Linked DNA regions of Homo sapiens. The protein of the gene in region 1 purifies or fractionates together with the protein of each later gene. This does not show direct contact. Each region holds a gene or a part of one and is shown in the gene's direction. Other genes may lie near its edges.

Region 1 (7,021 bases):
ATACAAAAAAATTAGCTGAGTGTGGTGGCGGGCACCTGTAATCTCAGCTACCTGGGAGGCTGAGGCTGGAGAATTCACTTGAACCTGGGAGGCAGAGGTTGTGGTGAACCTAGATTGTACCACTGCACTCCAGCCTGGGCAATAGAGCAAGACTCTGTCTCAAAAAAAAAAGAAAAAAAAAAAAAAAGAAAGAAAATAGCGGCAATGAGCTCTAACACGTATACTTTGGCACTGTTCTAAGTTCCTTACTTATATGTGTATTCACAGTGACTCATTTAATTCTTATAACAACCCATCAGGTAGCTACTGTTATTACCCCCATTGTAGAGATGAGGAAACCGAGGCACAGAGAGGTTGAGTCACACTTGCTCATAATCATATAGTTACTAAGTGGTAGAGTGTGGGCGAAAGATTACGTAGATGCCGAGGCAAGAGACTGAAGGCACAAACTGTTTCAGTGTAATAAAGAAAATAGAATAAAAATAGTCATAATACAAATGAGATATAGAGATGATCATGGACAATTATCAATCATTATTATAGACATTATTAATCATTAGCTTTTAATATTACTTTTTGTTGCATTACTAATATAACCTACGAATAACCGGCAGGTATAGGGTCAGGTGATGAAGGGACATTGTGAGAAGTGACCTAGAAGGCAAGAGGTGAACCTTCTGTCACGCTCGCATAAGGGCCGCTTGAGGGCTCCTTGGTCAAGCGGTAACGCTAGTGCCTGGGAAGACACCCATCACTTAGCAGATCGCGAAAAGGAGTGTCCTTTCCTTGGAGGAGTCAGGGAACACTCTGCTCCAGCAGCTTCTTGTGGAAGGCTGGATATTATCCAGGCCTCCCCGCAGTCATCCGGAGGCCTAAACCCCTCCCTGTGGGGCTGTGCTTCAATGCTCACGCTCCTTGTCCACTTTCATGTTCCTCCCGTACTCCTGGTTCCTCTTTGAAGTTCGTAGTACAGAGCGGTAGATGAAATAGTGAAAGTCTAAAGTCTTTGATCTTTCTTATCAGTGCATAGAAGAAAACGCTGACGTATGCTGCCTTCTGTCTCTACTTCGGCTACCTAAAAGGGAAGGGCCCTCCCGTCCTGTGATCACGTGACTTGCTGCACCTTGTCAATCACTTAGAAGATTCACCCTCCTTACCCTGCCCCCTTGTCTTGTATGCAATAAATATCAGCGCAACCAGCCGTTCGGGGCCACTACCGGTCTCCGCGTCTTGATGGTAGTGGTTCCCAGGGCCCAGCGTCTTTTCTTCTATCTCTTTGGCTTGTGTCTTTATTTGTTACAATCTCTCATCTCCGCACACGGGGAAAACACCCGCCAAGCCCCGTAGGGCTAGACCCTACAGTAGAGCTGGCATTCAACCTCAAGAAATCTAGCTTGGGAGTCCATTCTCCTAATCTCTGTGCTATTTTACCTCCGTGAGCAAAAGATGACAAGTTTTGCTAAGAATATAGGGAGCCTGAGGTAGAAGAGGAATGTGCTCTTTCACAGCCCTAGTCCCAGGCTCTGGGATACCCTTCTGGCTTCGTAAGCATCCTGCGAAGGTGCGCAGCATCACTTAGCACAACTCCCAGATGCGGAGGGCCCGGTCTTCGCTCTGACTGTCCTGCATTTCTGCGTCACCATGGGGAGACAGTGATTCGTTTAGCTTGGAGCAGAGTCTTCAGCAGCCTTCTCAGGAAGCGGGATCCCTGCCCTCCCCGGTAGCTGAGGACCTGCTGGCTCCGCCTCCCTGGTGGCTTTCATAACAGCACTCCAGGCTGGGGAAACCGGTGGGGCCACTTTCCTAAGGTGTGTCTGTCAGGACCTTCATGAACAACAGGACGTTTCAAGCAGAGAGCATGACATATGCAAAAATTAAGGAGTGAGAAAAAGCTAGGCATGTCCACAGAGCAGAGAAGACAGTGGCTGATGGGAGGCTGGCAAAAGGGAGAGAGGGGAGATGGTTTGGAACGGTAACCTAGGTCTACCTTTGATTATTGTAAAAGACCTGTACAAATAGAGAAATGTAATTTTTCCCGTCTATAGGCAATGGAGAGCCATTGCCTATAGTCATGCTGTGTCTTTTATGTTTACAGTTTTGCTCCTTAAGAAGCTGTTTTTCTTGTCTTTACGTGCAGATTCTTTCCCAATAATTAGGAAACACTGCCATCATGTGGCTCAATGGATGCATGCTCCAAACTTAAGTTGCTGAATGTTCTATCATATTGTTTAATAATTAAACCAAAGAACACATCTCTGAATTCAAAGAGCTGAGGTAAAGAATGTCAACCTATCAAAAAAGGACATTTTCTATAAAGTTTTTCAAAAAATCAATACCTGGCTTCAATGACCTGATTTTTTACTTTGCTTTTAAAATTGTAACCTGGCCAGGCATGGTAGACTGTAATCCCAGCACTTTGGGAGTCCGAGGTGGAAGGATTGCTTAAGTCCAGGAGCTTGAGACCAGCCTGTGCAACATGCTGTGACCCCCTCTCTACAAAAAAAATGAACAAATTTAGCCAGGCATGGTGGTGTGGAGCCTGTAGTCCTCGCTACTCGGGAGGCTGAGGTGGAGTATTGCTTGAGCCTGGGAGGTGGAGGCTGCAGTGAGCCATAATGGCAGTACTACACTTCAGCCTGGACAAGACCCTGTCTCTATAAATAAATACACACACACATACATACATACATACATACATACATACATACATACATACATAATAAAAAATAAAATTCTAACCTAAGTGTTTAGAGATTCTGATCTCAAGAATCCTTTCTATTCCCAGTGACCCCTTATTTTAGACTCATAAGTTTTCTGTCCCTGCAATGGTTCCACCCTTTCCAGGGCAGTTTGCTTCAAGCTGTATCCAGGATCTTTCCCTTAACTGTGCCAGATTTTGTTTCAGTCCTGGGATTGTTCTCCTTGTAGGTCCACAGTTGGACAGACCTAAATTCAAATATCCATACCATTTTTTCCCTGAGAGCTTCAGTTACTGCATCTATAAAAGAGGCACGACATCGGCCAGGCGCGTTGGCTCACTCCTGTAATCCCAGCACTTTGGGAGGCCGAGGTGGGCGGATCATCTGAGGTCAGGAGTTCCAGACCAGCCTGGCCAACATGGCGAAACCCCATCTCTACTAAAAAATACAAAAATTAGCTGGGAGTGGTGGCAGGCGCCCGTAATCCCAGCTACTCAGGAGGCTGAGGCAGGAGAATGGCTTGAACTTAGGAGGCAGAGGTTGCAATGAGCCGAGATCTCGCCACTGTACTCCAGCCTGGGCTACAGAGTGAAACTCCATCTAAAAAAAAAAAAAAAGAAAAGCGACACCTTCTTCATAGGGTTATCATAAGATGAAGTGATAGCATGTGTAAACGGTGCCTGGTACACTGCAGGTCTTCACATTGAGGGAGTCGTGTTTCATCCCTCTGTCCTTGAGGACCTGTTATTTTATTTTATTTATTTTATTTTTGTTTATTTATTTATTTTTGAGACAGAGTCTTTCTCTGTCACCCAGGCTGGAGTGCAGTGGCATGATCTTGGCTCACTGCAACTTCTGCCTCCCGGGTTCAAGCGATTCCCCGCCTCAGCCTCCCAAGTAGCTGGGACTACAGGCGCCCGCCACCACACCCGGCTAATTTTTTTTGTATTTTTAGTAGATATGGTGTTTCGCCATGTTGGTCAGGCTGGCCTCGAACTCCTGACGTCAGGTGATTCACCCACATCGGCCTCCCAAAGTGCTGGGATTACAGGCTTGCACCGCGCCCGGCCTGGGGGTCTGTTATTCTAAGCACAGAGCTGGCACTTGGTGGAGGTCTGTGATCTGATTGATATCCGAGATTTACCTGGTCCTCGGCAACGTTCCTGAGAACAAAACTACTCATCCCCTCAGGTTTTGGGGACCATCCCTATTTCCACGCGTTGGCGGTGGACCCTGGGCTCGCTGGGGTTTGCAATCCACGTGTCTCCCCTGCGCGCAGCAGGCGGCAGGTGCATGCGTGTGAGTAGGGCAGGGCCCCTCTGCATTCATTTCTCGCCGCTCCCCCCTCCCCCGGGCCTGGGGGTTGTGTGTGTACATAATTCAATCCCCGTGGGACTGGCGTCTGGCCTCACGCGCGGCTTGCCGGATTGGCTGTTTCAGCTCGCCCCCGCCCTCCGTACACCCCGCGTCCCAGGTGGCTCAGGCCCCTGTGGTGATCTCTGTTTACCGAGAGAGCCCGTCCAAGTTGGGCTCCATCGCTGCCCTCGCTCCCCTTCGGGGCCCCCGCCCGCCTGGGAAGCAGAGAGAAAGCCGGGCCCAGCCCTTCCTCACCCTTCCCCTCCCCGCACCGCCCGGAGAGGTCGGGTAAGGGGGAAGGAGTGTGCGTGGGACGGGGAACCTCGGGCCTGGGGATCTGGCTGTCCCCGTCCCCGTACCTCGCGCGGACCCGGGAGTTCCAGCCCTAGGCCAGGCTCCGGCTCCCTCCGCCCCGCGCCATCGCGCTCGGAGTGACGGGCCCACCCCGGGCGAGCAGCCAGAGGCTGGATCTCAGGGATGCCAGCTCCCCAGCGGAAGCACAGGCGTGGAGGCTTCTCTCACAGATGTTTCCCCACCCCGCAGACGGCGATGACCCCCCAGCCCGCCGGACCCCCGGATGGGGGCTGGGGCTGGGTGGTGGCGGCCGCAGCCTTCGCGATAAACGGGCTGTCCTACGGGCTGCTGCGCTCGCTGGGCCTTGCCTTCCCTGACCTTGCCGAGCACTTTGACCGAAGCGCCCAGGACACTGCGTGGATCAGCGCCCTGGCCCTGGCCGTGCAGCAGGCAGCCAGTGAGGGGGGCCCTGAGGCGGGAGACAGGAACGGGGAGGAGGAGCCGTGAGTGGAGGGATGGGAGACCCACCTGATTACCCGACAACCTGAGAAAGGGCAACCGGCTCTAGAAAAGAGTGCATCTTGAGGTCAAGGAGAAGAACCATTAGTTCGAGGGAGGCAAACAGCCAATGAGAAGTGTTGGAGAGAGTTTGGGGGCCCGGGGGCGTGTCTTCCGTTGACTCCGCCCCCTTTCAGGCCCCGTGGGCAGCGCCCTGAGCACGCGCTGGGGGGCCCGCCCCGTGGTGATGGTTGGGGGCGTCCTCGCCTCGCTGGGCTTCGTCTTCTCGGCTTTCGCCAGCGATCTGCTGCATCTCTACCTCGGCCTGGGCCTCCTCGCTGGTGAGGGAAGTGGGATGCCCGGGTCATTCAGGGTGAAGGAGGTGACAGGAGCTTGTTGGGATCTGGGGTAGCGAACGAGGCGGGGGCCTGGTGCGGAGAGCCGGGCTGGGAATGCTGGGGCGGGCGTCCCCAGTGCCGGCCCCCATCCCCTCCTATTCATTCGCAGGCTTTGGTTGGGCCCTGGTGTTCGCCCCCGCCCTAGGCACCCTCTCGCGTTACTTCTCCCGCCGTCGAGTCTTGGCGGTGGGGCTGGCGCTCACCGGCAACGGGGCCTCCTCGCTGCTCCTGGCGCCCGCCTTGCAGCTTCTTCTCGATACTTTCGGCTGGCGGGGCGCTCTGCTCCTCCTCGGCGCGATCACCCTCCACCTCACCCCCTGTGGCGCCCTGCTGCTACCCCTGGTCCTTCCTGGAGACCCCCCAGCCCCACCGCGTAGTCCCCTAGCTGCCCTCGGCCTGAGTCTGTTCACACGCCGGGCCTTCTCAATCTTTGCTCTAGGCACAGCCCTGGTTGGGGGCGGGTACTTCGTTCCTTACGTGCACTTGGCTCCCCACGCTTTAGACCGGGGCCTGGGGGGATACGGAGCAGCGCTGGTGGTGGCCGTGGCTGCGATGGGGGATGCGGGCGCCCGGCTGGTCTGCGGGTGGCTGGCAGACCAAGGCTGGGTGCCCCTCCCGCGGCTGCTGGCCGTATTCGGGGCTCTGACTGGGCTGGGGCTGTGGGTGGTGGGGCTGGTGCCCGTGGTGGGCGGCGAAGAGAGCTGGGGGGGTCCCCTGCTGGCCGCGGCTGTGGCCTATGGGCTGAGCGCGGGGAGTTACGCCCCGCTGGTTTTCGGTGTACTCCCCGGGCTGGTGGGCGTCGGAGGTGTGGTGCAGGCCACAGGGCTGGTGATGATGCTGATGAGCCTCGGGGGGCTCCTGGGCCCTCCCCTGTCAGGTAAGGACCTGAGCTCACAGATCTGCCTACAACTATCCTCTGCCCCTGGGGTTCGAGGCTTCTAAATGCCCTTACCCATCTCCTCAGGCTTCCTAAGGGATGAGACAGGAGACTTCACCGCCTCTTTCCTCCTGTCTGGTTCTTTGATCCTCTCCGGCAGCTTCATCTACATAGGGTTGCCCAGGGCGCTGCCCTCCTGTGGTCCAGCCTCCCCTCCAGCCACGCCTCCCCCAGAGACGGGGGAGCTGCTTCCCGCTCCCCAGGCAGTCTTGCTGTCCCCAGGAGGCCCTGGCTCCACTCTGGACACCACTTGTTGATTATTTTCTTGTTTGAGCCCCTCCCCCAATAAAGAATTTTTATCGGGTTTTCCTGAAACCTCCAACTGTTCACCAATCTAGGACCCTGAAAATATTCTACATAAGACAGCCAGAAAGGCTGGTTCAAAGGAACAGGATCCCAGAAGGCCCTGGGTATGAAGAAGGGTGACTGTCCAGCCAATCCATTTCTCTTTGCCCAAGTCCTGGCCGTAACAGGGAATCTTTGCGAAGTTGTCTGGCAGCCAGTTTCAGTGTGTTGCTGGGGTTGGGGGCGGGTTGCTAGTGGGTGCTATCTGCCCCATCTTCATGTCCCTTACCCTAGTTCCCAGACCTCCCAGACTTAACTCTTCCCTGCATTTCAATCTCCTTCTATGGGCCTGAGGGAAATACAAGAATCCTAGGCCCAGACTTCAGCTCTATCAAAGCTATTCACACATCTATACCCTGTGTCCTCAGCATTCTCTCAATTTCTTTTCTTTCCTTCTTTTTTTTTTTTTTTTTTTTTTTGAGACAGAGTCTCCCTCTGTTGCCCAGGCTGGAGTGCAGTGGCGCGATCTTGGCTCACAGCAACCTCCGCCTCCT
Region 2 (7,178 bases), on another chromosome or scaffold:
ATGTAAATGCTGTTTGCATAGGGGAGTGTCCCATCTAACCAAAATATTCTGGGAGAAAACTGCCAGGCACCTTTGAAAAGAAATCAAATTACCTATGAGGACAATAAATTAGGATAGAATACCCTAATAAAACGAGATTCCTATTCTCATAAAATCACCTTCTTGCTGGGTGCTGTGGCTCATGCCTCTTAACCCCAGCACTACGGCACGCTGAGTGGGGAGGGTCTCTTGAGGTCAAGAGTTCAAGACCAGCCTGGGCAACATAGTGAGAGCTCCCCCGCCCTACTCCACAAAGTATTTAAAAATTAGCTGGGCATGGTAGTGTGTGCCTGTAGACTCAGGAGGCTGAAGATGGGAGGAACCCTTGAGCCCAGGAGTTTGAGACTGCAGTGAGCTATAATCAGGCCACTGGCACTCCAGCCTGGGTAACAAAGATCCTGTTTCTAAATAAATAAATAAATGATATCGCTTAACTTCATTGAAATTTTACACGTTAACAAACTTTAGAACTAAATGCTTTAAAATATAAACCATTAAAAAATCATTTGACTTAAATATTAAATTCTAAATTTTATATAGAAAATACCCACTATTCGTCCATAGAGAAAAGCAAATATACTTACGATTAAATTGTGACACATATTTATCACCCACAGTAATATATTCCATCTCACTAAAGAGGCCAATCCTTTCCATGTCCGTTTTTCCTCCTTCCGCAGGCATGGTGGCGTCTGGTGGTGGTACTCTCTATACCGCTAACTTCAAAAGTTTCCCTAGGGTCACGTGTTTTATAGCAAAGTCCTACTTTACATTGAAAATAAAAATAAAGGGGAAAAGTTTAGAAAAAAGTGGTTACTAATTTCCAGTTCTAATTACTTTCAGTCTGAGAGTTTAAGGTTTACTACAAAACAATAGCCTCATACTCCATGGGGAAAGAACCTACTCTGCGGGGTGGGGGAGAATACTGGGATTCAAAATTCTCCAGATGAGCCCTCCCCCTTGACTCTCCGTATGAAGTGCTCACAAATTACAAAGGAATGTACAAGATCTCATCGATTACACTGCCATTTATCTGTTGGAAATGATAAAATTATTACTGTACGGTGTATTATAAACAAATCCTTCTTTTGAGAAGTTCAGGGTAGATTTTAAAATCATAATTATATAAGGCAGACATTTTTACAGTTTAAATACAATGATTTCAGCATCCTGCATTGTCCCTTATGTTGAAAATATAACAGCTTTTCAGGATGTACAACACATTGAGGTATTACCCTACAACTCTTGAGGTTTTTTTCAAGTTTAAATAAACATAATAAGTGTGTCACTGGCAAAATTATAAAGGGAATGGGGAAGAGAACAATTATTTAGGCAAGATAAAAACGAGAACAAAAACAAAAATTCTACAATGAATTCTGAGTATTTGTTAACAGGTATACTTCAACTCTGAGCTTTCTTTGGAAATGACCACTTCAAACAAAGGTGAAATATTAAACATGCAACTCTTTATTTAGAAATTAATTGTTTTAAGACAGAGTCTCTTTTTTTTTTGTTGTTGTTGTTGTTTTTTTTTTTTTTAGACAGTCCCAGGCTGGAGTGCAGTGGCATGTTCTTGGCTCACTATAACCTCCGCCTCCCAGGTTCAAGCGATTCTCCTGCCTCAGCCACCTGAGTAGCTGGATTACAGACACGCGCCACCATGCCCAGCTGTTTTTGTATTTTTAGTAGAGACAGGGTTTAACTATGTTGGCCAGGCTGGTCTCGAACTCCTGGCCTCAAGTGATCCACCCACCTCGGCCTCCCAAAGCGCTGGGATTACAGGCATGAGCCACCGCGCCCGGCCAGAAATTAATTTCTAATAGTAGACATGTTATTTTTAAAAAGGAAGAGGCCCAAGGAGCTAAGAATACTTACCTCTATCCCATTCTAAAGTTTTTAAAGCACCAATTATGAGCTAAGCACTGGGCATACATAAGTGAAGAAAACAAACATTGGGTTAGTCCTCACAGTTTGTAATCCAAAGTAAGAACCATTTTTTTTTTTTTTTTGAGACAGAGTTTCGCTCTTGTAGCCCAGGATGGAGTGCAATAGCGCGATCTCGGCTCACTGCAACCTCCGCTTCCCAGGTTCAAGCGATTCTTCTGCCTCAGCCTCCCAAGTAGCTGGGATTACAGGCGTCTGCCACCACGCCCAGCTAACTTTGTATTTTTTAGTAGAGACGGGGTTTCACCATGTTGGCCAGGCTGGTCTTGAACTCCTGACCTCAGGTGATCCACCTGCCTCGGCTTCCCAAAGTGCTGGGATTACAGGAGTGGGCCACCGCGCCCGGCTGGTAAGAACCTTTTACCTTAAATTTATTTATTTCTTTGCTTATTAAGATGGAGTCTCGCTCTGTCGCCCAGGCTGGAATGCAGAGGCGCTATCTCAGCTCACTGCAACCTCCGCCTCCTGGGTTCAAGGAATTCTCCTGCCGCAGCCTCCCAGGTAGCTGGGACTACGGGCACCTGCCACCACGCCCGGCTGATTTTTGTATTTTTAGTAGAAACGGGGTTTCACCATGTTGGTCAGGCTGGTCTCAAACTCCTGACCTCAAGTGATTCACCTGCCTCGGCCTCCTAAAGTGCTGGGATTTCAGGCGTGAGCCACCGCGCCCGGCCTTTTACCTTAAATTTAAAGCAAGCTGTTTGAGTGCCTCTCTGCAAGCCTGCCTGAAACTGGCTCACCTGAGCATGAATCATTGCTAATACGTAACACCAAAGGGGCAAGTGAAGATTCATTTTAAACTGAAACATAACTAAATACAACGCCCTTCCCCACATCCTACCTCTTCCATTAATCAGAGATGCTTTAAAACCAAACTTCAGTCAAGATTTAGTACTTTCATTTACCTTATATTTCAAAGCTCCACGGCACAAGGGCAGGAGCTGAGACAGGTTCCTCCCTCTCACGGTATCCCCGCATCTGCGCAGCTCCCGGCACACAAGCGAGCCAGGGAGGAGGGAGGGAAGAAATTCTTGCCTAGAACTTTCCCATCACTTAACTTTTTTCTTATTAATTTTTTTTTTTTTTTGAGACGGAGTCTCTCTCTGTTGCCCAGGCTAGGAGTGCAGTGGAGCTGTCTTGGCTCTCTGCAGCCTCCGCCTCCCGGGTTCAAGCGATTCTCCTGTCTCAGCCTCCCGAGTAGCTGGGACTACAAGCACCCGCCACCATGCCCGGCTATTTTTTTTTTTTTTTTTTTTTTTTTTTTTTTTTTTTGGTATTTTTAGTAGAGACAGGGGTTTCACCATTTTGCCCAGGCTGGCCTCGAACTCGTGAGCGCAGGTGATGCGTCTGCCTTGGCCTCCCAAAGTGCTGGGATTACAGGCGTCAGCCACCGCGCCCGGCCCGCCACTACTTAACTCTTATTGAGCAACATTTACAAAATTATTCATTCACTTATTTAACAGATATTCTGCAATCCCCTTCGGGGCAAGCTTGCTGGTAGAAACTAGAAACAGATTTAAGAAGGCATAGATGCTGCCCGCAAGGAGCTTACAATCTATTAGACAAGAAAATAGAGCATAGCCGAATTATGGCACGTTCCCTTGCAAAAGGTACGGATGGAGCGTCAGGAGAGGTGAAGAAGGGGCAGAAAACTGGAGGAGGTGATGAGGAGTCTGTTTCCCAGAGAGGAAACGGAGGCTGGGAGGTGGCAGGTATCTAAGGGGCAACACCTGGCGTCCGCGAGGACCAAGTCACCTTTCTTGAGGACACCCACTCCGACAGCCGAGATCAGGTTGCCCCAGCTCGTCCAGGTTGCCCCAGCTTGTCCACGTTAACTGCGCTGCGGGAGCGGCGAGGGTTCCCAAGCGCGCGACACGCCTGGGCTGCGCAGCGCCTCTGCACGTTCCACCACAGCTGGCGTTTATTGTGTGATGTGTTGCCCCGGGTACGGGAGAATCCATTCCAAGCACGCTGTGGGAGGATACGAGGAGATTCGAATCCGCATCGAAGAACACACAGAAGGATGTGTGAGCTTCTGTAGGACAGAAAAGACTTAACTAATAGAATTTACCAAACATAAGTCTTCGGCTACCCGCCCCGCCTCGCCGTCCGCGAGGGACTGCGGTGTGGTACGCTCCGTGACGTCATGCCGCCGAGCATGTCGGGAGTTGTAGTTGGTCCGCCCGGGCCCCGCCCCTGGGCCGTGCGGTGACACCACTTCAGGGCCGGCCCCCGGAACTTTTGGGCAGGCGTCAGCGCCCGTGTCACCGCCACGTCGCGGACATGGTGAGTATCTCTGCTCGTCACCGACCCCTGTGTTTTTCCCCGGACTTTGGCAGCCGCCACGAGCGGGCTTCACAGCGCCTGAAAGGAGCTGGTCCTGCCGGGGTCCAAGATGGCAGCTGCGAGCTGCGTGGGCAGGGCGGCTCTCCAGTTCGCCTGTCTCCGCGCTGGGCCGGGGGGAAAGTGCCCTACACAAGTGTGCACCCCGCCTCGGCCACCTTGGACACGCACCCCCTGCTACTTCTCTGTGTGAAAGTATTTTGAGAGACTTCGGCGTTTTTGAAGCCTTGCAAGAAGGGCTTAACCTGGGACAGGCGCAACTTTCTTCGGATATTATATTCCCCTAGTTCCCGTGGTATTTCCCTCCCCTGGTTTCTCTCCTGTCTCATTGCTCAGCAAGGTTCTCCAATCCCTATCCTAAATGGTGGTGCTCTTCAGGGACGCTTTACACCCTATGCGTTCTCCTAAAATTTTATCTCTAAGTTAGACCTTTCTTCTGAGCTCCAGACCCACAAATCTGCTAACCGTGCCTCCACTTGGATAGCTCATATGTATTTCAAGCTCAGCAAGTTCCAAACTGAGCATTTCCACTTCCCCACAGCCCACACCTGCTCTTCCTCCAGGAACCCCCAACTCTGTAGATGGCACCACCATACATCCTGTTGTGCCTGCCCAAAACCTGGAAATCATCCTTGACATCTCCCTCTTCTCAACTCCCCGACATGCAGTCAATAATCAAGTCCTATAGATGCTACTTCTAAATGTCTGTCTGTTGTCACTGTCGCCACTCTTACCATCCTTGGCCTTGAGATCTATCCATCTGGGGTAGTCACCTAAGTGGTCTTTTAAGCAGATCTTCACTCATCGATGGCCCTGCCTGGAATGGGCTATTGCACCTTCACTCACCCTTCAGATCTCAGCCTCAGTATTATTTCTTCAGAGAGTATCTCAGCTAATTCGGAAGTCTAGGAAGACTAGTGCTTTTATGAATGATGTCTTGTGGAATCTTCATAACAACCCTGGGAAGTTGTGTATTTTTCCAGTTTTACAGAAGAGAAACAGACTTAAGTGATAAGTTAAATTGTGTAAAATTGTACAGTAAGTAGCAGAGTTAAAATTTGTTCTTTCCTGTCTAACTTTTATCTTCAGTATCTTTAAATATTTTTTATTTAAATGGGTACATACTAGTTTGTTTGGTAGTATTCTTTATTTAACTGATTTCTTATTAATAGCTATTTAAGTGGTTTCCATTTATTTTTCTGTGATGAACAACGGTAGAATAAATGGACAACATGAAGCTAAATTTGTCCTGAACTTTCTTGATTGTTTCCTTAGAATAAATTCTCAGAAGTAGAATTGGGACAAAGGGTATATGATCTTTCAAAAGATTACAATTTTAGAATAAATAAAAACAGTGACCCTTATAGAAATGTGACAAAGGATTTGTAAAATGAGAAAAACTGTATTGGTACCTATTTAATACTGTTCTGAGGATTGGAGTAAGTATGTATGTTTAGCATAGTGCCTTTTACATGTTTTTGTTTTATTTTATTTTGTTTTTTGGAGACAAGATCTTGCTCTGTTGCTTAGGCTGGAGTGCAGTGGTGTGATCATGGCTCACTGTAGCATTGACCTCCCCGGCCCAAGCAGTCCTCCCACCTTAACCTCCCGAGTAGCTGGACTACAGGTGCAGACCACCACACTCAGCTAATTTTTTTTTTTTTTTTTGGTAGAGATGGGGGTCTTCCTATGTTGCCCAGTCTGGTCTCTAACTCCTGGGCTCAAAGTGATCCTCCTGCCTCTGCCTCCCAAAGTGTTGGGATTACAGGCGTGAGCCACTGCACCCTGCCTGTGTTTTACATTTGAAGAGCTCAGTAAATGTTAGTACTTATTCATTTATTTCAAAATAGGGGTCTTAGTGTGTACTATGGTTCTTCAGCCTGTTTGAGAGATATGTTTTGAGAGTCTCATGAAATTTTTGAAACCTCTTCCCAAAAGAAATCTCCCGCTCTCTTTCTCCCTTCCTGTCTCTTTCTCTCGTGTGTGTGTGTGTGTATATATGTATGTATATATGTATGAATATGTGTATCTGTGTGTGTATATATGTGTACACAAACAATGATACATGTCATTTGTGATATATCATCAACTACCTGAAACAGTATATGGATCCAAGTAAAGAACTGATTAGTTCCATTTTGCAAGTGCTCTTTTCCCTTTATAAGTTGTAAGCATTGTCCTGTGCCTTTTAATTTTCAGCAAAAACATGATTTTTTTATGGCTATATGATATTCCTATTTTTTTTAACCAATCTATTGTTGGCAGTTAGGTTAATATCCATGTACCCGAATCTTTGTGTGTTTTTCAGATTTTTCTTAGACTAAGTCTGAGATTCTAAATGCATATCACTAGATCAAGCCTATGAATATAAACCTTTGATTCTTACTGCCATATTCTCTGAAGGATTCCACCAGTTGATATCCCACCCTCAGTATGAGTTTCCTCTCATTGTCTTGACTCCCTGGTATTATATTAGGTTCAGTGCCTTGTCACATTCTTAAACTAGTTCTTTACTGTTGATGTTTTATTGTCATTGTTAAACCTGTCAAGATTATAATTTGGAAAGATTGTCTTAAAGCAGTAGTTCTCAACCATTCACATTAGAATCACTGGCATGGGGGCATAGGATACTTTTAAATATCCCTGTGCCAGCTGGGCGCGGTGGCTCACGCCTGCAATCCCAGCACTTTGGGAGGCCGAGACAGGCGGATCACTTGAGGCCAGGAGTTCAAGACCAGCCTGGCCAATATTCTGAGATCCCGTCCTTACTAAAAATACAAAAATTAGCCAGGCGTGGTGGTGTATGCCTGTAATCTCAGCTACATGGGAGGCTGAGGCAGGAGAATCTCTTA
Region 3 (6,963 bases), on another chromosome or scaffold:
GTAGAGACGGGGTTTCACCATATTGGCCAGGCTGGTCTCGAGCTCCTGACCTTGTGATCTGCCTGCCTCAGCCTCCCAAAGTGCTGGAATTACAGGCGCGAGCCACCACGCCTGGCCAGCCCACACAGTATCTCTTCAGCAATATTCAGTAGGTTAGGGGAGTCAAAGAGCCCACCCAACTCAAGGGGAGAAAACAAAGGACCCTTATTCCCCCTTTATACGCTTCATGATGAGAGTATCAAAGTGCTTGTTGCAATATTTATTTCACCAAGGAGGAAAAGGTCAATTTGGACCAGAAAGGTCAGAAAAAGTTTCCCCCGTCTGGGTATCTCCAATTCTTCTATCCCTGGTTCACCTCAGAGTATTGCAGTTCTGAGAACCAGTGCATTCTGGATTCATTGTAGAACTTTGATTCTCTACTTGACTGTATGTCAGAATCACCAGAGAGCTTGAAAAATCCTGATACCTGGATCTTTTCCCGCAAAACTCTGGTTCATTTGGCTTGGGATTCAGTGTGGGCATTAAGGAGTTTCATCAGCTCTCCATGTAGCTTTAAATGTGATTTTAAGCTGGTTAAAAACCACAGCTTTAAAATGATATGGCCTAGACAGTGCACTGTTAGGTAAATACTTATTCCATAGGCATCAGGGTTAAGTTGATATGCAGAGAAGATCTCTAAAGAGAAAAAAAAAAAAAAAGGTAGGAAACAAATGAAAGTGGAATAAATGAAGGTGTAAATCAATAAGATGAATGGGGGAGGGGATGTCACTCTACGTATATGGTATAAGTTCTGCTCTTTTAGCTCCACGTAAGCTAAAATTGTGGAATAATGTACAAGACAAAAGTTATGAAGTTAGCATCGAATTTAAGCCAGAATTAAAAATTGTCAGGCACTCTCAGCTTGTTTTCTAGATTCGGTATTGATCTCTGCGAAATTCAGTTTTCTCTTTGCCAAAGGATATTGTGAGGTTTACTGGATATTTTTGACCTAGATGTATAGGCCTACATACTTGGACACAGGTTGTCTGTTAACCTAAGACTTTGAGTCAAATTTTAATAATAAGAATAGTTATAAATGTATAGCCCTATGAGTTAGCATTTTTTTAGTTCCAGCTGAAAAAAGAAAAAAGAATTGTCTAGAACATTTTTCTCTCTTCTGGGTATCCCCAGTACTTCTATCCCTGAGTTGCAATCCACTAATATTATTATTTATTTGATGCTCAATTTGTCCCAGATTTGTCCAGTGGGAACCCCTTTAAATGTCCTTAAAGGTAAAAACTGCCAGCATGTTCTACTGAGATATGGACTAACAATGTCAGACATATGTGGGTGCTTGAATAGTATTTGCTTCAAAAATATTTATTACTAGAAAGCTGCTGTGTTTGGGGTGAGAGGTTAGTAGGGAAGGGGGTTCATAAAGGGAATGCAAAAGCCACGTCCTCTGGAAGTTAAAGGATCATTTTAAATGATTCTACTGCAAACATTTTTCAAAAGATAAACATGACCCATTTCTCCAATTTGTGTCATGTAATAGTAATAATAATGATATTTAAATACTCCCACTGATATGTCCTTTACAAAGATATATTATATGTCTTATTTAATCAAAAAACCTTAAAAGAGTCCCTGTACCTAATTTTATTCCAGGACTCAAACTGTGTCAGCATGTCATTCAGTGCAAATCAGACATTTAGATGCATAGGCTATGCTGTCAGTAGTTCTGAACTTTCATAGACATTTCCAATTAGCTCGGAGAGACAACTGGATATTGTGTTTAAGCACTGTGTTTAGGAAAACAGGCACTGGATGGACCAATGCCAAATTTCCTGCTCTGCTGCTTAACTAAGTATGTGTAATTACTTGGGCAATTACTTAAGCAATTACTTGGGCAATTACTTAAGCCAATCCCCAATTTCTTCGTCTTGAGCCCAGAAGGTCAAGGCTGCAGTGAGCCGTGAATGTGCCTCTGCCCTCCAGCCTGAGCGACAGAGTGAGAATTCCCCAGGAGTGCAGAGGTTCTCAGAACTGCAATACTCTGAGATGAATTTTGAAAGGTGAATCAGGGATAGAAAAAGTTATATAGGGAAGGCAGTCAATAAGCTTGTTTTAAAGGATATGGAGCATTTGAAAAAGTGGAATGTACATAAGGCTGGAAATATCAAATATCTAAATATAGAACAGGAACAGTGATGAAAAGACTTTCAAAATGCTTAGCAAAATGAGAATTATATTTCTTTCTCAACTCTTTTGTTCCAACAGCAAAAGCAACAGTGGGGATCAGCATCAACTTGGGTAAGTAAGTTTTTCTGGTCATAAATAGGCTGATTCAACTGAAAAAAATGTTTCTTTAAGAAGGGTGAATTTGTGTCTAAGGATTTTATGAGACTAACTGGGAAAAGTCAGTCAGAGTTTAGTTTGAGGTGAGAAGTGCTTACTGTTGACACTCTACCTAATTATAGGGAAATGTGTGCAGTTAGTCCTGAGACCAGATGCAGGGTTGAAAGAAAGAGGTGTGATGTAGCAGCCATTGATTAGGCAATTTGGGTTTAGCAAGCCCAGTCAATGCCCTCAGAGGGTCAACAGTGTATAAGATTTAGTCCTTGAAGGCATCTTTTAAAGTTTCATTCAGAAGATTTTAATAATTTTGACCATAATTTTCTGAGAAGAGGCTTTTCTGAGATTTGTCATTCACAGATAAACAGTTGTCTAATTTGTGTGTGTGTGTGTGTACATGTGTGCATGCGTGCATTTGTGCATGTGTGCCTATCTAGCCTCTTTTGAACACAATGGTAGATTGGCACCTGGTAGATAATATTGTTGAATGAATTGTATTATTCATATTATCTCACTGCCAATTTGAAGAATCTACATTCTGTTTCCAAAGTTTTGTGCATATAATACTAAACCAGAAACAGACGTGTTTTAGTAATACGTACCAATTACAAATTAACCATTCCTGCCTGGAATAAACACAGGTTTTGTTAAATAGCTCAATTTTCAAAATTTGTCTCATGTTATTTCCAATCCTTTTTTTTTTAACGCCGATATATTTTGAATTTACGAATGTGAAAGCTGAACTTCAAAAAAATAAAGGGAGAGGAAACAAAGCTCGTGAAAAATTTTAAAAATATCTTTTAATGCGTTATAACATCCTGGAGAGAAATCAAATCAATGTGTTTCAATGTTACAATATAGATTTCTCCTCCCCTCCCGGATAAAGCACTAATTTATTTAATTTGGTTCAGAGCACTGAATATTCCAAGCTACAGCCTTGTGGGTAAGAGCATTATCTTAAAGAGTGTTCGGATTTAACAAAGGTCAATGTCTTGTGCAGTTTACATAGTATCTACTCTCAGTAGCTTTTGCTTCTTGAGCTCTAGGTGGCTCCTCAGAAGCTGTTAGGCTTAACAAACAAAAATAAAGTAAAATCAGACACGGTATGGGGCCTTGGGACTCTAAAACCTTCATCCGGAGAAAATCAGTTAAGCCTTCAGAGACTAGAAGAGAGAATGTGTGTGATTGGTAGGCAAAGCAAAGAAAGATTAACACAAGTTGTCTGGCAGCTGGATAAAACCTTACACCTGCGCAAAAATAAGCCTCCCTCGTAAGAAAGCCCAAAGATGTCCGGGGTCCGGGAGGAGAAAAGTGTTTCTCATCTGTCCCATCAAAGCAAATTAGTGAAACCTGCCTCAGGTGAAGTGCAAAGGCCAGTCTGTAGGCAGAGTTTCGACCTCTCCCCACGAGATTGGCTAGACATCACCTGCCCAAGCTCTCTCCCGACCTGCTAGAGCCGAGAGGGCGGAGGCCGGAGAGGCTGCAGCCGGGAAGTAGCACCGCCACCGCACATCCGGGAACGCCAGCAGCCGGCTGAGGGCTGCATAACTGATGGAGGGCCGGGCGCGGTAAGAGCGTCTCGGGGGAGTGGGGCAAGGCGGCCGGGCCCCTCCCATTCCGCCTTTTCTTCAGCGTCCTACCCGCGGCACTGGCTGCGAGCGCCGGGCCACCTGCGAGTGTGCGCAGGGACTCTGGACACCCGCGGCGGCGAGCTGAGGGAGCAGTCTCCACGAGGACCCAGGCGGACCCTCTGGCGCCATGCGCGCCCTCCCCGGCCTGCTGGAGGCCAGGGCGCGTACGCCCCGGCTGCTCCTCCTCCAGTGCCTTCTCGCTGCCGCGCGCCCAAGCTCGGCGGACGGCAGTGCCCCAGGTGTGATGGGTACAGGGTCCAGGGTAGGGAGGGCGGAGGGCGCGCGAGGCTCGGGTCCCCGCGGGCAGAGGGCATCGCCGGCGCGCCGGGCAAGGGTGGCGGGGAGAGGCGCGGGGATGCTGGTAAGGGCGGGTGGGAGAGTCGGCGGCGGCCTCCCATTAGCTACGTTTGTGTCACCTAAGCTGAACCCTGAAACTGCTGCGGCTCGCGTTCCTGCGCTCTTTGGGGCGAGTCTTGAACGAACAGCGCCCCGCGAGTCGGGCGCGTAGGTAACAGGGCAGAGTCTGGTTTTTCCTAGGAAGAAGGCAGTGGGGTGTGTGGGTGGTTGCAGGGACCAGCTAGCGACTTGGCTTGGGCAAATATGGCATGAATTTTGAAAGCCACATTTCCCCAAGGCCTACTCCCTTTTCTTGATTCGAGAGTAAGGCTCGAGTATCACCTCCTTCCCTCCTCTTGGCAGGTGGGTTGGCTTTGAGGATTTTTTTTTTTTTTTTTTTTTTTTTTTTGAGACGGAGTTTTACTCTTGTTGCCCAGGCTGGAGTGCAATGGCGTGATCTCGGCTCACCGCAACCTCCTCCTCCCGGGTTCAAGCGATTCTCCTCTGTCAGCCTCCAGAGTAGCTGGGATTACAGGCATGCGCCACCACGCCGGGCTAATTTTATATTTTTAGTAGAGACTGGGCTTCTCCACATTGGTCAGTCTGGTCTCGAACTCCCAACCTGAGGTGATCCGCCCGCTTCGGCCTCCCAAAGTGCTGGGATTACAGGCGTGAGCCACCTCACCTTGCCGAGGATGTTTTTTTAGAGCTGAGTAGGGGAAAAAACATCATAACCAACTAGCCAACCAAAGATCCACAACTTACAGGATAACGTGTGTGTATCTTCATTTTACACCGTGGTCTTTGAAAACAAAATGTGTGTGTGCATGTGTGTGTGTGTATGTGTGAGATTTTTGCTTGTTGTTTTATTGTTTAAGACACTTTGACAGAGGGATTACGTGCAAAACATTAACAAAGCCAACACGAAAGTTGCCATTCTACCTTCACCTGTTTATAATTACTTTTCATATTGAAAGGATTCCATCCAACCTATTGCAAGTTTCTGTGTCATAAATGTTACCAGCCAGTAAGGGTAATAAAAGACCACCTCTCAAGCTGGTAAATATTGGCCACCAGTAACTAAAATTGGGACATTATTCTGCAAAAAGTTTTCAAACTCTCATGGGAATTTATTTTCATGGGCTTGTAAGATGTGGAATTTTTGTAACACACCATAGAGAAGGAAGGATAATCAAAAGGTAAGACTATTAATTTTTATAAATGCCTTTTAAAACGTCTAGTTGTTAACAACTTGGACAGAACATCGTGGGTTCCTTCGCAGATTTCCTTGTGCCACATCTCTTTTCCATAATACCACTTATAAAGAATTGTCCAGGCCTGTAATCCCAGCACTTTTGGGCGCTGAGGTGGGAGGATGGCTGGAATCCAGGAGTTCAAGACCACCCCGGGCAACATAGCAAGGTCCCTTCTTTATTAAAAAAAAAAAAAAAAAAATTAAAAGTGCGGTTGTGGTGATGTACACCAGTAGTCCCAGGTGCTTGGGATGCCAAGGCAGAAAGATTGCTTCAGTCCAAAGTTTGAGGCTGCAGTGAGCTATGATGGTGATGGTGCCACTAAGCTCCAGCCTGGGTGACAGTGCAAAACTGTCTCAAAAAAAAAGAAAGAAAAAGAAACAGAATTGTCCAGGACATTTTTCCCCCTTCTGGGTATCTCCAATTCTTCTATCCCTGGTTCACCTCAGAGTATTGCAGTTCTGAGAACCAGTGCATTCTGGATTCATTGTAGAACTTTGATTCTCTACTTGACTGTATGTCAGAATCACCAGAGAGCTTGAAAAATCCTGATACCTGGATCTTTTCCCGCAAAACTCTGGTTCATTTGGCTTGGGATTCAGTGTGGGCATTAAGGAGTTTCATCAGCTCTCCATGTAGCTTTAAATGTGATTTTAAGCTGGTTAAAAACCACAGCTTTAAAATGATATGGCCTAGACAGTGCACTGTTAGGTAAATACTTATTCCATAGGCGTCAGGGTTAAGTTGATATGCAGAGAAGATCTCTAAAGGAAAAAAAAAAAAAAAGGTAGGAAACAAATGAAAGTGGAATAAATGAAGGTGTAAATCAATAAGATGAATGGGGGAGGGGATGTCACTCTATGTATATGGTATAAGTTCTGCTCTTTTAGCTCCACGTAAGCTAAAATTGTGGAATAATGTACAAGACAAAAGTTATGAAGTTAGCATCGAATTTAAGCCAGAATTAAAAATTGTCAGGCACTCTCAGCTTGTTTTCTAGATTCGGTATTGATCTCTGGGAAATTCATTTTTCTCTTTGCCAAAGGATATTGTGAGGTTTACTGGATATTTTTGACCTAGATGTATAGGCCTACATACTTAGACACAGGTTGTCTGTTAACCTAAGACTTTGAGTCAAATTTTAATAATAAGAATAGTTATAAATGTATAGCCCTATGAGTTAGCATTTTTTTAGTTCCAGCTGAAAAAAGAAAAAAGAATTGTCTAGAACATTTTTCTCCTTTCTGGGTATCCCTAATTCTTCTATCCCTGATTCACCTTTCAAAATTCATCTCAGAGTATTGCAGTTCTGAGAACCTCTGCACTCCTGGGGAATTCTCACTCTGTCGCTCAGGCTGGAGGGCAGAGGCACATTCACGGCTCACTGCAGCCTTGACCTTCTGGGCTCA

The links. Proteins that work in one complex are often made in the same cells at the same time.
Region 2: the proteins of SLC16A11 (region 1) and UFSP2 purify together in Homo sapiens (affinity purification with mass spectrometry; 2 studies listed by BioGRID and IntAct, with this or other methods). This does not show direct contact.
Region 3: the proteins of SLC16A11 (region 1) and EMB purify together in Homo sapiens (co-immunoprecipitation; 4 studies listed by BioGRID and IntAct, with this or other methods). This does not show direct contact.

What each region holds. Positions count from the first base shown.
Region 1 is NC_000017.11:7,041,097-7,048,117, reverse strand, and holds SLC16A11 (monocarboxylate transporter 11), read left to right. Parts: upstream 1-4,025; 5' UTR 4,026-4,343; exon of another isoform or gene 4,344-4,598; 5' UTR 4,599-4,604; coding exon 4,605-4,806; intron 4,807-4,877; exon of another isoform or gene 4,878-5,044; coding exon 5,045-5,188; intron 5,189-5,354; coding exon 5,355-6,122; coding exon of another isoform or gene 6,123-6,187; exon of another isoform or gene 6,188-6,209; coding exon 6,210-6,439; 3' UTR 6,440-6,497; downstream 6,498-7,021. UniProt on the Homo sapiens protein: Proton-linked monocarboxylate transporter. It catalyzes the transport of pyruvate across the plasma membrane.
Region 2 is NC_000004.12:185,422,957-185,430,134, reverse strand, and holds the start of UFSP2 (ufm1-specific protease 2), read left to right. Parts: upstream 1-4,170; 5' UTR 4,171-4,266; coding exon 4,267-4,269; intron 4,270-7,178. Other genes in the region: CFAP96 (cilia-and flagella-associated protein 96), read right to left, coding at 624-723. UniProt on the Homo sapiens protein: Thiol-dependent isopeptidase that specifically cleaves UFM1, a ubiquitin-like modifier protein, from conjugated proteins, such as CD274/PD-L1, CYB5R3, DDRGK1, MRE11, RPL26/uL24, TRIP4 and RPL26/uL24.
Region 3 is NC_000005.10:50,438,281-50,445,243, reverse strand, and holds the start of EMB (embigin precursor), read left to right. Parts: upstream 1-3,955; 5' UTR 3,956-4,092; coding exon 4,093-4,204; intron 4,205-6,963. UniProt on the Homo sapiens protein: Plays a role in the outgrowth of motoneurons and in the formation of neuromuscular junctions.